Homo sapiens: one gene and its partners. The protein of the gene in region 1 interacts with the protein of each later gene in a biochemical or structural test. Each region holds a gene or a part of one and is shown in the gene's direction. Other genes may lie near its edges.

The links.
Region 2: the proteins of PPP1R7 (region 1) and UBXN2B form a complex in vitro, tested with the Homo sapiens proteins (2 studies listed by BioGRID).
Region 3: the proteins of PPP1R7 (region 1) and PPP1R3A form a complex in vitro, tested with the Homo sapiens proteins (one study listed by BioGRID).

The regions. Positions count from the first base shown.
Region 1 is NC_000002.12:241,153,456-241,157,209, forward strand, and holds part of PPP1R7 (protein phosphatase 1 regulatory subunit 7), read left to right. Parts: intron 1-20; coding exon 21-149; intron 150-1,562; exon of another isoform or gene 1,563-1,809; intron 1,810-3,754. UniProt on the Homo sapiens protein: Regulatory subunit of protein phosphatase 1.
Region 2 is NC_000008.11:58,442,347-58,446,100, forward strand, and holds part of UBXN2B (UBX domain-containing protein 2B), read left to right. Parts: intron 1-3,560; coding exon 3,561-3,722; intron 3,723-3,754. UniProt on the Homo sapiens protein: Adapter protein required for Golgi and endoplasmic reticulum biogenesis. Involved in Golgi and endoplasmic reticulum maintenance during interphase and in their reassembly at the end of mitosis.
Region 3 is NC_000007.14:113,912,315-113,916,068, reverse strand, and holds part of PPP1R3A (protein phosphatase 1 regulatory subunit 3A), read left to right. Parts: intron 1-3,754. UniProt on the Homo sapiens protein: Seems to act as a glycogen-targeting subunit for PP1. PP1 is essential for cell division, and participates in the regulation of glycogen metabolism, muscle contractility and protein synthesis.

The DNA.
Region 1 (3,754 bases):
ATTGACATGTGTGGGTTCAGTTGACAGGCGGGTCGAGTCTGAAGAATCCGGCGATGAAGAAGGGAAGAAACACAGCAGTGGCATCGTGGCCGACCTCAGTGAACAGAGCCTGAAGGATGGGGAGGAGCGGGGGGAGGAGGACCCAGAAGGTACCAGGCCCAGCTCCCTTGGGGACATCTGCTGGTTGGGGGATGTGGGCTGTGCTGCACGTGGTCTGGCCCTGGGTGTGGGTGCTGTGTCGGTCTGGAGAAGGACTGCCGTGCTCCTTAGGGGTCCTCAGTGGCCCAGGGCAGGTGGATATGCTCTTTGAGGTGCTCCTTCAGCAGGCTGACTCATTGATGGCGTTTGCAAAAAGGATGTGGTTTTTTCCAATTCCACTGAAGGCAAATCCTAGCACAAATATGGGTACTAGTATGCCGTCTGAGACAGAACCATGACATTGTTGGCCAGATGCAGTGGCTCATGCCTGTAATCCCAGCACTTTGGAAGGCCAAGGCGGGTGGATCACGAGGTCAGGAGATCAAGCCCATCCTGGCCAACATGGTGAAACCCTGTCTCTACAAAAAATACAAAAATTAGCTGGGCGTGGCAGCGTGTGCCTGTAATCCCAGTTACTCAGGAGGCTGAGGCAGGAGAACCGCTTGAACCCAGGAGGTGGAGGTTGCAGTGAGCCGAGAACACACCACTGCACTCCAGCCTAGGTGACAGAGGGATACTCCTTCTCAAAAAAAAAAAAAAAAAAAAAAAAAGGAAAAAGAAAAGAACCGCAATATTGTTATATTAACCATATGTTTAGGAAATGAGATTCGAAATAAATGTTATGGCTGACTGCTGTGTTTCTATGTCCTACCATAGCAATAGAAACCTTTAATCTCTGAGAGAAATTATTTCTGAGTCTTGCCTTACCATTTTTATAGGCCTGAGGATTGACTTCTAAAGTGCCTAGATGTGGCCGGGCGTAATGGCTTACGCCTGTAATCCTAGCACTTTGGAAGGCCAAGGCGGGTGGATCACTTGAGGTCAGGAGTTCGAGACCAGCCTGGCCAACATGGTGAAACCCTGTCTCTACTAAAAATACAAAAAAAAGAAAAAAAGAAAAATTAGCCAGGCATGGTGGTGTGCACCTGTAGTCCCAGCTACTCAGGAGGCTGAGGCAGGAGAATCGCTTGAACCAGGGAGGCAGAGGTTGCAGTAAGCTGAGATCACACCACTGCACTCCAGCCGGGGTCAGAATGAGACTCCATCTCAAAACAAAAAAGTTTCTGAACAGTATGCATGCATGTATGTACTTTTACCTGCTAAAGAAAGAAAACACATCAAACGGGCTGAGTCTGTCCAAACAGCAGGTTTAAGAAGGATCTATACATTTTGTGTTTTCTAGATTTGTATACAGTGTATGAATAATCATGCATCCCTTATGAAAATAAATTTATGAAGAAACAAACCTAATTTTTAAAATAACATTGTGCTCTCTGTGCCAGCAAAGATGATTGGTAACTATGGCAACCTACTTTTAAGTCACAAGGAGATTACCACAAAAGTACCAGTCACATTCACTTTGGAACTTTGAGGCTGATGTTCTGGAAGTGATGTGGGTGGAATAAAGTGCATGGGAGTGATAGATGGAAGCTTCCGTCATCGCCTGACTTAGTCACCAACAGTGGAGCGGTAGGAGCCCCCGCTATCCTCAGATGGGTGCTGCTGAGACATTGGGTGTTTATGGAGGACTTGAGAGTTGGCAGAGCAAGCCTTGTGTGCTTTCTTTCCCTGGCTCACTAGCACAGGCTAATCATGTTGTCATCATGTTCTGTAAGTACACCAGTGTGGTAATGTGTTATAGATGAGGAAAATGAGACTCTCTGCAGCTTGTCCAAGGGCACACGGCTACAAGGCAGACCAGCTGGCCTGGCCTGGAAAAATCCAAGTTTTTTCTTCGAGATGATTAGCTGATTATGAATTTTCTGGGAATATGCATTTCTAGCCCTTAGAGGAGCCAAGACTTGCTCCTACCTGTATTTATTTAAGTCTTAAATTCAATTAAAACAAATTTAATCATGTCAACTGTTACCTTCTACCTATTTTCCTTAAATTATTTTTAAAATATGATGAATATATAATACACTCAGAAGGGCATTCTAGGCTGGAAACCTTGTTTCAGAGGTTAGCTGACATTTTGAGTGGTGAGCGGCCAGCCCTGCTGGCTGTATTACAAACAAGACCCCTTAAAGCCATGCGACCGTGTGTCCTGAGGAGCCTGGCACAGCCCGTTTCTGCCTGCTGGCCCAGCATAACTGTGCCCTTCTGCTCTCAAAGGGTCCTGGTTTGGACTACATGACCTGGGCGCCCTGCCTTAATTGTAGCACCTCTTCCAGTGCAACTTCCTGAGTTTATGAACGGTGACTTGACACTGTCTTTTGAGGTGATTTGTTATCTATCTCTTGGTTTTGCCCAGTTCCTTTTATTTAATTCTTAGGTTGGTATCCTTTACAGTTGTGGATAAACTATAGTAAACTTTTTTTTTTAACTAACCACAGTTGATGGTTATAGAAAAGGCATAGTGGAAAACAATGAAGTGAATGCAACCATGTGGGATCATGACTTTGTTAAGCTGGTCTGATGTCAGGTGCTCCTCTCAGAGGCCTCCAGGTGAGAGGAGGAGCCAGGCTGGAGGAGCCAGCCCTTGGCATGGGGTCCAGGGCTGTGTGAGCTCACTCCCCTGCAGAAGCAAGTGCACGTTTGCTCTAGGAAGAGCCACAGTAACAGCACTGACAGCCCTGTAAGGTAGTGACAATGACAATCTGTTTACAGGAGAAAGAACATCCTATGCATATAATTCACAGACTCCAGACTGGGAGAAGCACTACAAGACAAACAGCTTGTTTTCCTACAACAGAAAACTGCAAGGGGAAAAAAGAAATTTAAGAAAAATGCTGGGCTGGGTGCAGTGGCTCGTGCCTATAATCCTGGCACTTTGGGAGGCCAAGGTGGGAGGATCACTTGAGGCTAGGAGTTCCAGACCAGCCTGGGCAACATAGCGAGACCCTGATTGTACAAAACATGGTTTTAAAAAATTAGCCAGGCATGGTAGCACACACCCGTAGTCTCAGCTTCCTGGGAGCCTAAGACAAGGATTGCTTGAGCCCACAAGTTCAAGGCTGCAGTGAGCTATGATCACACCACTATACTCCAGCCTGAACAGCAGAGTGAGACCCTGTCTCTTAAAAAAAAATTAATTTAAAAAAGTTTTTTAAAAGAGAAATACCATCTAGTCACAATATACAGCCTTATTTGGATCATAATGCAAGTAAACTAAGGAAAGAAATGTTAAGACAGTTGAGGAAATACGAACACTGACAATCTTTGGTGATATTGAGGAATTACTGTTAATTTTTTTAAGTGTTTTGAGGGGTGAGTGTGCGTGTTTGTGTGTCTGCATGAGTCTGTGTATACCACTGTTGTGCATGCGTGTGTCTGTGTAGTGTGCATACGTGCCTGTGTGTCTTTGTGCATGCGTGTGTGTGTGCATCTGTGTGTGTCTTAGTCCTTTTCAGCACACATGCTGAAGTAGGTTCCAATGAAATGAAATGAGGAAGTGCTTAACAGGGAAGCTGTCGCCTCAGCAGGGAGAGCAGCTCTCTCCCTCCTCCGCACAGAGGATGCCGGCTCCGGGGTAGAGAGTCCTCGTGAAATCCAATGGGCTTCTCTGCTGGAGTGAGTTCACCAGTCTCCCCACTGAGAAGTGTGTTTAAATTAT
Region 2 (3,754 bases), on another chromosome or scaffold:
TACATTAAGAAATATATTAAAAGTTTAATAGTTAACCTTCATTTAGAAAGTAACTTTCTAAAATGGCTTGGTTCTCAAGAGTTCAAGACAATTATTTACTGAGCAGGAAATAAAAAGAAGCAAGTAAAACAGAAATGAAAATAATCTATTGTCTTCCATAGATGGCAGTCTAATTACACACAGAATGTTACATAGATGGGAACTAAATCTTTTCATGTGATATACAATTATGGTGCAAACCAAAATGCTGTAAAAATGTTACATAGTACCCTCACATAATAGAAGAAAGCAAACCATAGATATAAAACTGCAAATTTGCAATGGTAGAACAAACTGTATTATTGAGTAAAAATTAGCTTGGTGAGCTAGAGTAGTGCCTAACAAAATCACAGAGTCATTTTTAATAGGGAGGACTAGCGAGTAGGCATTCTTGGTAGGCTTTTGAGCTGGCGTGTATAATGATAAAAATCATGATTTGAAGCTGATGTTTCTGCAGAAGAACAGTCACTGCCTGTTTGTCCTACTGTTCTCTTCAAAAGATTGTGCTTGCCACTCTCACTTACCTGAGATTTGACTTCATCTGGGGCCCTAGACCCTGAGGGCTGTCTTCTCTAAAACTTCAAAGCCTTACTTTATCTCAGCTCCTCAACAGCTGTGAGCTGACTGAAGCCTGACTGGGTTGTCAGCCCTGTGTGACTCAGTACTTCTGGGGACAGCCTCAGCTGTGCTGAGCAGGCAGTGCTGTGCCTCGCCAGTCTCACAGGCCTGAGCTGCTTTCCTAAACCCCCTCCTCGACCCCTGCCCCTCACTCTCAGCAAATTTCTTTGCTTCCAGCTTCATTGAGAAAATAGAACCTGACGGGAATTCACATTCTTATTATGTTTCCCTCCAGCCTTCAAGCTGGTCATTTCCATCCTCCTCTCCCTCCATAAGTTTGAAGAAGAGGGTGTTTCTCCTGTCTCTGAGGGAATTACAACCTACATCCTTTCCTGCCATTTGCCTACAAACCTTGTTGTACCAATTAATTTCTCTTTTCTTTCTTAAAAAATTTTCTTTTTAATGTAAAAGTTTTACTATGGCTTGATCAATTGAATGATAGGGAGAAAGTTTTAAATAGCAAACAGATGTGATTTTGACAGCTAAATATTAGAATTAACATAACTTGCATGGGCACAGTGGCTCACACCTGTAATCCCAGCACTTTGGGAGGCCGAGGCAGGCAGATGACTTGAGATTAGGAATTCAAGACCAGCCTGGCCAACATGGCGAAACCCCATCTCTACTAAAAATCCAAAAAAAAAAAAAAAAAAAATTAGCCGCATGTGGTGACAGGCACCTGTAATCCCAGCTACTTGGGAGGCTGAGGCAGGAGAATCACTTGAACTCAGGAGGCAGAGGTTGCAGTGAGCTGAGATCACACCACTGCACTCCAGCCTGGGCAACAGAGCAACACTGCATCCCAGAAAAATAAATAAATAAAATAAATTAATTAACATAACTTTTTAGGCTGGTTTTTTAATACCACACTACCAGCTTGTCCAGCTATCTGTCTGTGTGGTTCTGAGCATGTCTTTTAGTCTCTCTGTGACTCGGTTTCTTTTAGATAAAATGATATGGTTGGCCTAAATTATGTTGGAAGTCCATCCATTCCAGTTCTCAAATGTTATTATTCCATATACAATAGTTTCATTGTGACATACACACATTTTCTTACCTAGCTTCCCCATCCTCCATTTTCTGTTTTGAGAAAAAGCATACCTGGTCAGAATCTGCCTTAAAACAGAAAGCAGTAGATTACAAAAATAATAGGGAGGCAACTTGGTGTGTAGAAAGAGCCCAATATAAACCTCAGCTCTCTCACTTACCAATAGGAATATTGGGGGTAACTTTTTTTTTCCAGAGTTGTTGTTAGGATAATTATAATGCTAATAGCCAACTTTTAGTAGTGCCAACTATATAAAAGCACCATTTGAAGTGCTTATGTGTCCTAATTAATTTAATCTTTACAGCACTGCTGCTGTTGGCTCTCAGGCACAATAAGGGTAAGTGACTTGCCTGGTGTTACAGAATAAGTGCAGAGTTGGGATTGAAACCAGGTAATCCAGCTCTGAGAACCATGCTGTTAACACTGCTTCCCAGGCTGATGTAAATGAAATAATGCATGTGGCAGAGGTGGTAATGGTGGTAGTGACGATGATAATGTGTATACCTGGTTATCAGTGAGGCGGAGGTAAAGAGGACCTTTGCATTCAGTGTCTCATGTCTTTTCTCTTGGATTTTCATCCCCCTCCCTTGTGTAAGGAACGCTGGACTCTTGGCACAGTAAACCAGATTGGCAGTGCAATTACTTAGGCCCTCAATTCCAAATTAAAAAGAAATTCCTTAATATCTGATCATTTATTGTAAGTCATAATTTTAACCTTATGTATATTTTTATGTATCCTCAAATCAGTTCTAAAATTAGCATCAGGAAATAGCTAAAGAAAGAGAAAGTGTCAGCAGTTAGTACCAGGTAATTTTATCACTTTACTGTGTACTCTGAGAGAGAAGCTTTTTGAATGGAAGTAAGAGTCATGATGATTTAGATTGGACTAAAGCCCAAATGCTCATAGAACTTTTATACTAGTAATATGTAGATACATGCGTGTCTTTCTTCCAGAAGAAAATAATCTATAGGAAACCATCTAAATCTCAGAGTTCAAGAGAAAAAACTTCAAGACTATCAAAAATTCCTTAAGATGACTGAGAAAATTGAGCTAAATTTATTTGAATTATTTAACCAAAAGAGCACTCCTCTATTTTTGACATTCACTTTTGGCATATACTGGCTGATCATCCTGCTAGTGTTAGAAGGGGCTAAGACAGCAATGCCAGGGTCACTAGTAACCAAGTTCTAATGGTAAGATATTCTATCAAGCTTCATTATGAATTTATTGTCATGTAATAACATTTTATTCCTCAATGGTACTTAGAAGTTATTTCTCTTTTGCAAAGCAGTGCTTGAATCAGATGTGTTTAAATGATATTAACCAAGTCCAAATTAAATGAATTTAGTGCTGATAATATGTTCACAATAGCTGGCACCCGTTGAAACACTGTGTTCTAGGCACAATATTAAGGACTTACTGGTATAATATACCTTCATAACATAGTATTATTCCCTCACTTTATAAATGATAGAACTGGGATTCAAAATGATTGATGTACTTACTCAACTTTACACAGTTGACATGGCTGGGATGTGAAACCATGTCTGTCTGTGCTCTTAATGATTCTTTGACCCTAACTCAGAGTTGCTCGTATTTCTAAATAAAACTGGTTTGCTAAACAGTGATGAAGTTGCAAACAGTTAAATGAGGAAAGGATGCAAAGTTAGGCTTTTATGAGAGATTAGATAAACCAAATAAGAATCGTAGGATCCAAAATAACTTTAATATAATGAAAGAGGTTGAAAGAAGTATAGGAGACTCAAATGAAGCCATGTTCTAAGTGTTTATCGCTGTCTTCAGTTTGTCATATATTTTACACATTCAGATTTGTGTTTAATTCCTCTTTTTTAGCCTTACACCTGAAATAGTCAGTACACCTTCCTCTCCAGAAGAGGAGGATAAATCAATACTTAATGCAGTTGTTCTTATTGATGATTCAGTGCCAACAACAAAAATTCAAATCAGGTTAGCAGATGGGAGTCGTTTGATACAAAGATTCAATAGTACACACAGGTAAGCTTCTTTACCAACAGTGTCCTGTTTGC
Region 3 (3,754 bases), on another chromosome or scaffold:
ACATCTGATTTATATACCACTCAAAATGGAGTGTATAAAGGAAATCCTGACAGATCCTTAGAACAGCATGTGCCATAATAGAATATTTATACAGCTTTTCCATGATATAATTTATATGCAATGGGGTTTCAAATATTCCTAAAACTCACACAAGAGAGCATTATCAAATTTCTAAATGAATATTGCAGTTGGATTTTATTGTGAAGAGTTTGGTTAGAGAAAAATAGCACACCTTATCGGTGTTATTTTACAAAATGTGTACTTGACTAAAATAAAAATGAACTAATACTTATTTGATCAAAAATTATAGCTACTAAAATCTCTTCTCTCCAAATAGTTACAGAATCTAAATGGGTCATTTCTGAGCATTTCTACACTTCCTATGTAGCTTAATTTGGAGGTTATTTCTTTCAGAAGGTAAAAACAGAATATATATATGTATATATATGTATGTGTATATATATGTATATGTATATATGTATGTATATGTATGTATATATGTATATGTATATATGTATATACATATACATACATATATATATATGATTTTTTCTTTATACCTGCAAATAGATTAGTAATAGTATGTAATATCAGTCATAGCTAAAATGAAAATCAGGCTGCCCTAGTGTAGAGAATAACAGCTAACTTCAATTCTTCTTAATAAAAAAGTTAATTTGCTATCAGGGTGCCTGAGATTGTATCTTCTGAAAGTGTCAATAATCCCTTCTAATAAGTATGGAATGAATGAATGTGGAAATACATTTAGGTAGGATTTCTGTTAAGTCAATCACCCACCCAGGCATTATGTTTTCTCTATGGAGATTTTTCTCATGTTAAGAGTTTGCAAATCTCCACATTGGTGTGGGTTGTCTATTTTCTTTTGATGCCTGATAGTCTGTACACTTTGGACAGAAAGAAATATGTAGAGAGAAGGGGAGGCAGAGCTTGTAACTCATAGGCATGTGATTGAGAGTGACCCAAAGATATTTAATTGCACCGAAAGGCATGCATCATGAGATACTTAAGTATCACCACATATGCTAGCAAACTAAGCAGATTCCTGATATATCTGATGGGTTTTATTTTAAAATCAATGACAAAAATGACATTGATATAAATCACATTAAATGTACATAGACAAATAAGCTAAAATGGCATGCAAAACAATATAACCTCAAAGTTAGGATTTTAGGCTTCAAAGTTAAAGATATCTGAGTTTGAATCCAAGCTCTCCTACATGCTAGCAATATGAACTTGGGCAAGTTAAGCTTGTTTTTCTGGTATGTTAATTGAGAACAACTACAGCTCTATCTCATAGGGGTTGAGATTTCGGTGAAGTAATACATATAAACTTTTAGCACAGTGTCTGGAACATAATAAGTTATCAGTAAATGTTAACTGCTGTAAAAAGACAATGGTAACTTCAGCTTTAGGTGTATCTGAAAAACTGCAAGGCTCAAGCTGCACCAAAGTTCTTCTCCTCTTTCATTTCAGGGCTTCTAAATTTTCAGCTTTGGAGAGCCATTCCTTTGTCTCTTGCAAGATTTTAATCAACAAGGAAGACTAACTGAACTGTAAATTTTCTTGAGAAATGTGTCACTTTATATATGAATTATCTTAAAGCTGGAAGAGAACTTAGGAATGTTAAAATTTCCACATTTAATAGATGAAAAAATGAAGAACTAGACCAAAAGGGATAAAAAGGCATTCATTTAGGATTGAACAGACATGCATATTAATTTCAGTAAAGTTTACACTTAGTAGCTATGTGGCTGTGGGCATATTACTTCAGAGCTCAAAGCCTCAGTTTATTCACCTGTCAAATAAGGGTCATGATGTCTAGTGTCACATTGATTAAAATAAGTTTATATACTTAAAGCTTTTAATATAGCATGTTAGACACACATGAGGATATCATCAAAAGCCCTTCATCACAATTGTCCCTTTTATTATCAAATCTTGTTCAGCTAATGTCCTGACTCTTGAACTTGCATTATTTCTCCATACATCATAGGTTTCCTTGTTTCAGGCTCCAAAACTTATTCAACAAATGTTTACTAAAGAACTGTATGTCAGGTTCTGAGTTGTTAGGCAGCAGTATCGATAACTGAGAAATGTGGCTGGAGACAGGCGCCTGTGAAGACAAGAAGAGGCCCCAAGGGAAAAGGCCTTGAAAAGCAGAGAGAAATGAAGGGAAGAGAGAAAACACCAAAACCAAGTTCAGATTCTCTGGGTATACAGTAGAAGCCATAGATAAAAAATGAAATAAGAATTATTTCCACTTGAGGTTTTCTAGAATATGTGACCTAGAGCTGACACTGTGTACTTACTGGCCTGGGGGGTGGTCTCCCTTCTCAGCATCTTGGCTTTTTTTCCCCACTGCCTGCTAAATGTATGTTCCTAATGGCTGGGTACACCGGTTGAGTTCATCTGGTTTTGTATTTTATTAAGTGAAACCAATTTATTATTTTAAGTAAAGAAACTGCATGATATAGGTGTTTGATGGTATTTATAACTTGGCCAGGTGAATGCAAATAAAGTCCTAAATGACTTTAATGCCAAAGGAGAAAATTGATTAGTCCTCAATTTTTGTACTGTAGGAAAAAAACCAGGTACGTTCAGGAACAGGAAAGAGAGAACTCCTTTCTAAAACATAATTTTAAGAATACAGAGGGTTTATCTTTCAGGGTGGTAAAATTGTGAAAATGAGGCCAAGAAAAGCATTGGGAAATGGGGTCTAAGATATGGCTACATTGTGTGTTTCAGTCAGAGCTGTTGGATTGTGAGACTTCCTTAATTTACGCATACAGTATAATCTGGGGTCCTGGAAATAGTCCAAAGAGGTGTAAATAGCCCCACGAGGCCTTTGGGACCTCACGTATGCCATAACTAACTCGTTTTGAGTCCACACTAATTGTGGAAGCTGGGTCTGTTTAAGGAGGGACCTCTGGCAAGGCCACGTGGAAACATAAAACACAGCTGTGCAGGGCCCATCAGGAGGGTGTTTGAAAGCAGCCAGCTGGTTGACAGCGAGGTGCCAACTGGCTTCAAGTTTCCTTGGAGGTCCACCAAGGCTTCATGGTTTCCTGGTTTTGTGGAAATCCATACCCCATCCTAGACTTTCCCTAGAGTGATTTTGAAACTTTTCTGAGAGAAGAGGAACAAAAGGGTATCCTCCTTCAGGGTGTCTCTCATGCTGTGGCTGAAAGGAGTCACTATGAATGCCATGCCTCAAATGGATCCTCTGGGATCTCTGAGAGCCTATCCCTCCCCACCTGAAGCCCATCTGCAGCCTGTAAAAATAAAGCAGAGCCCACTATTTCTGAGCCAAAAATGCTCCTGGCAAAAAAAGAAAAGAAAAGAAAAAAGGAAGAAGAAAAAGATGGCACCGTTATGAAGTGGGTCAACTTAGTTTTTCACCTTCCTCCACTTCTGCTAACTGTGACTCTCATCCCTATTCCAGGTTTTTACCCCTACCCCTCAACAGGAAATAATGCAGGGGAAAAGACCTCAAGGGCAGATATCTGAAGTGGATCCGATTGCCCAGGGCCCTATCAAACTTAAAAAATCCTCTATAATCTGACACCTCATTTTGTAACCTTGCCTAAAATTTACATATATGTGTTTGTGTATATATATATGTGTGTGTGTGTTGTATGCTTATATATGTATGTACACATGCACACACATGTGTGAGATTTTCCTTCTTAAATGGAGACCCCTCGAGGGTGGCAGGAGCTATTTCAATCTTATA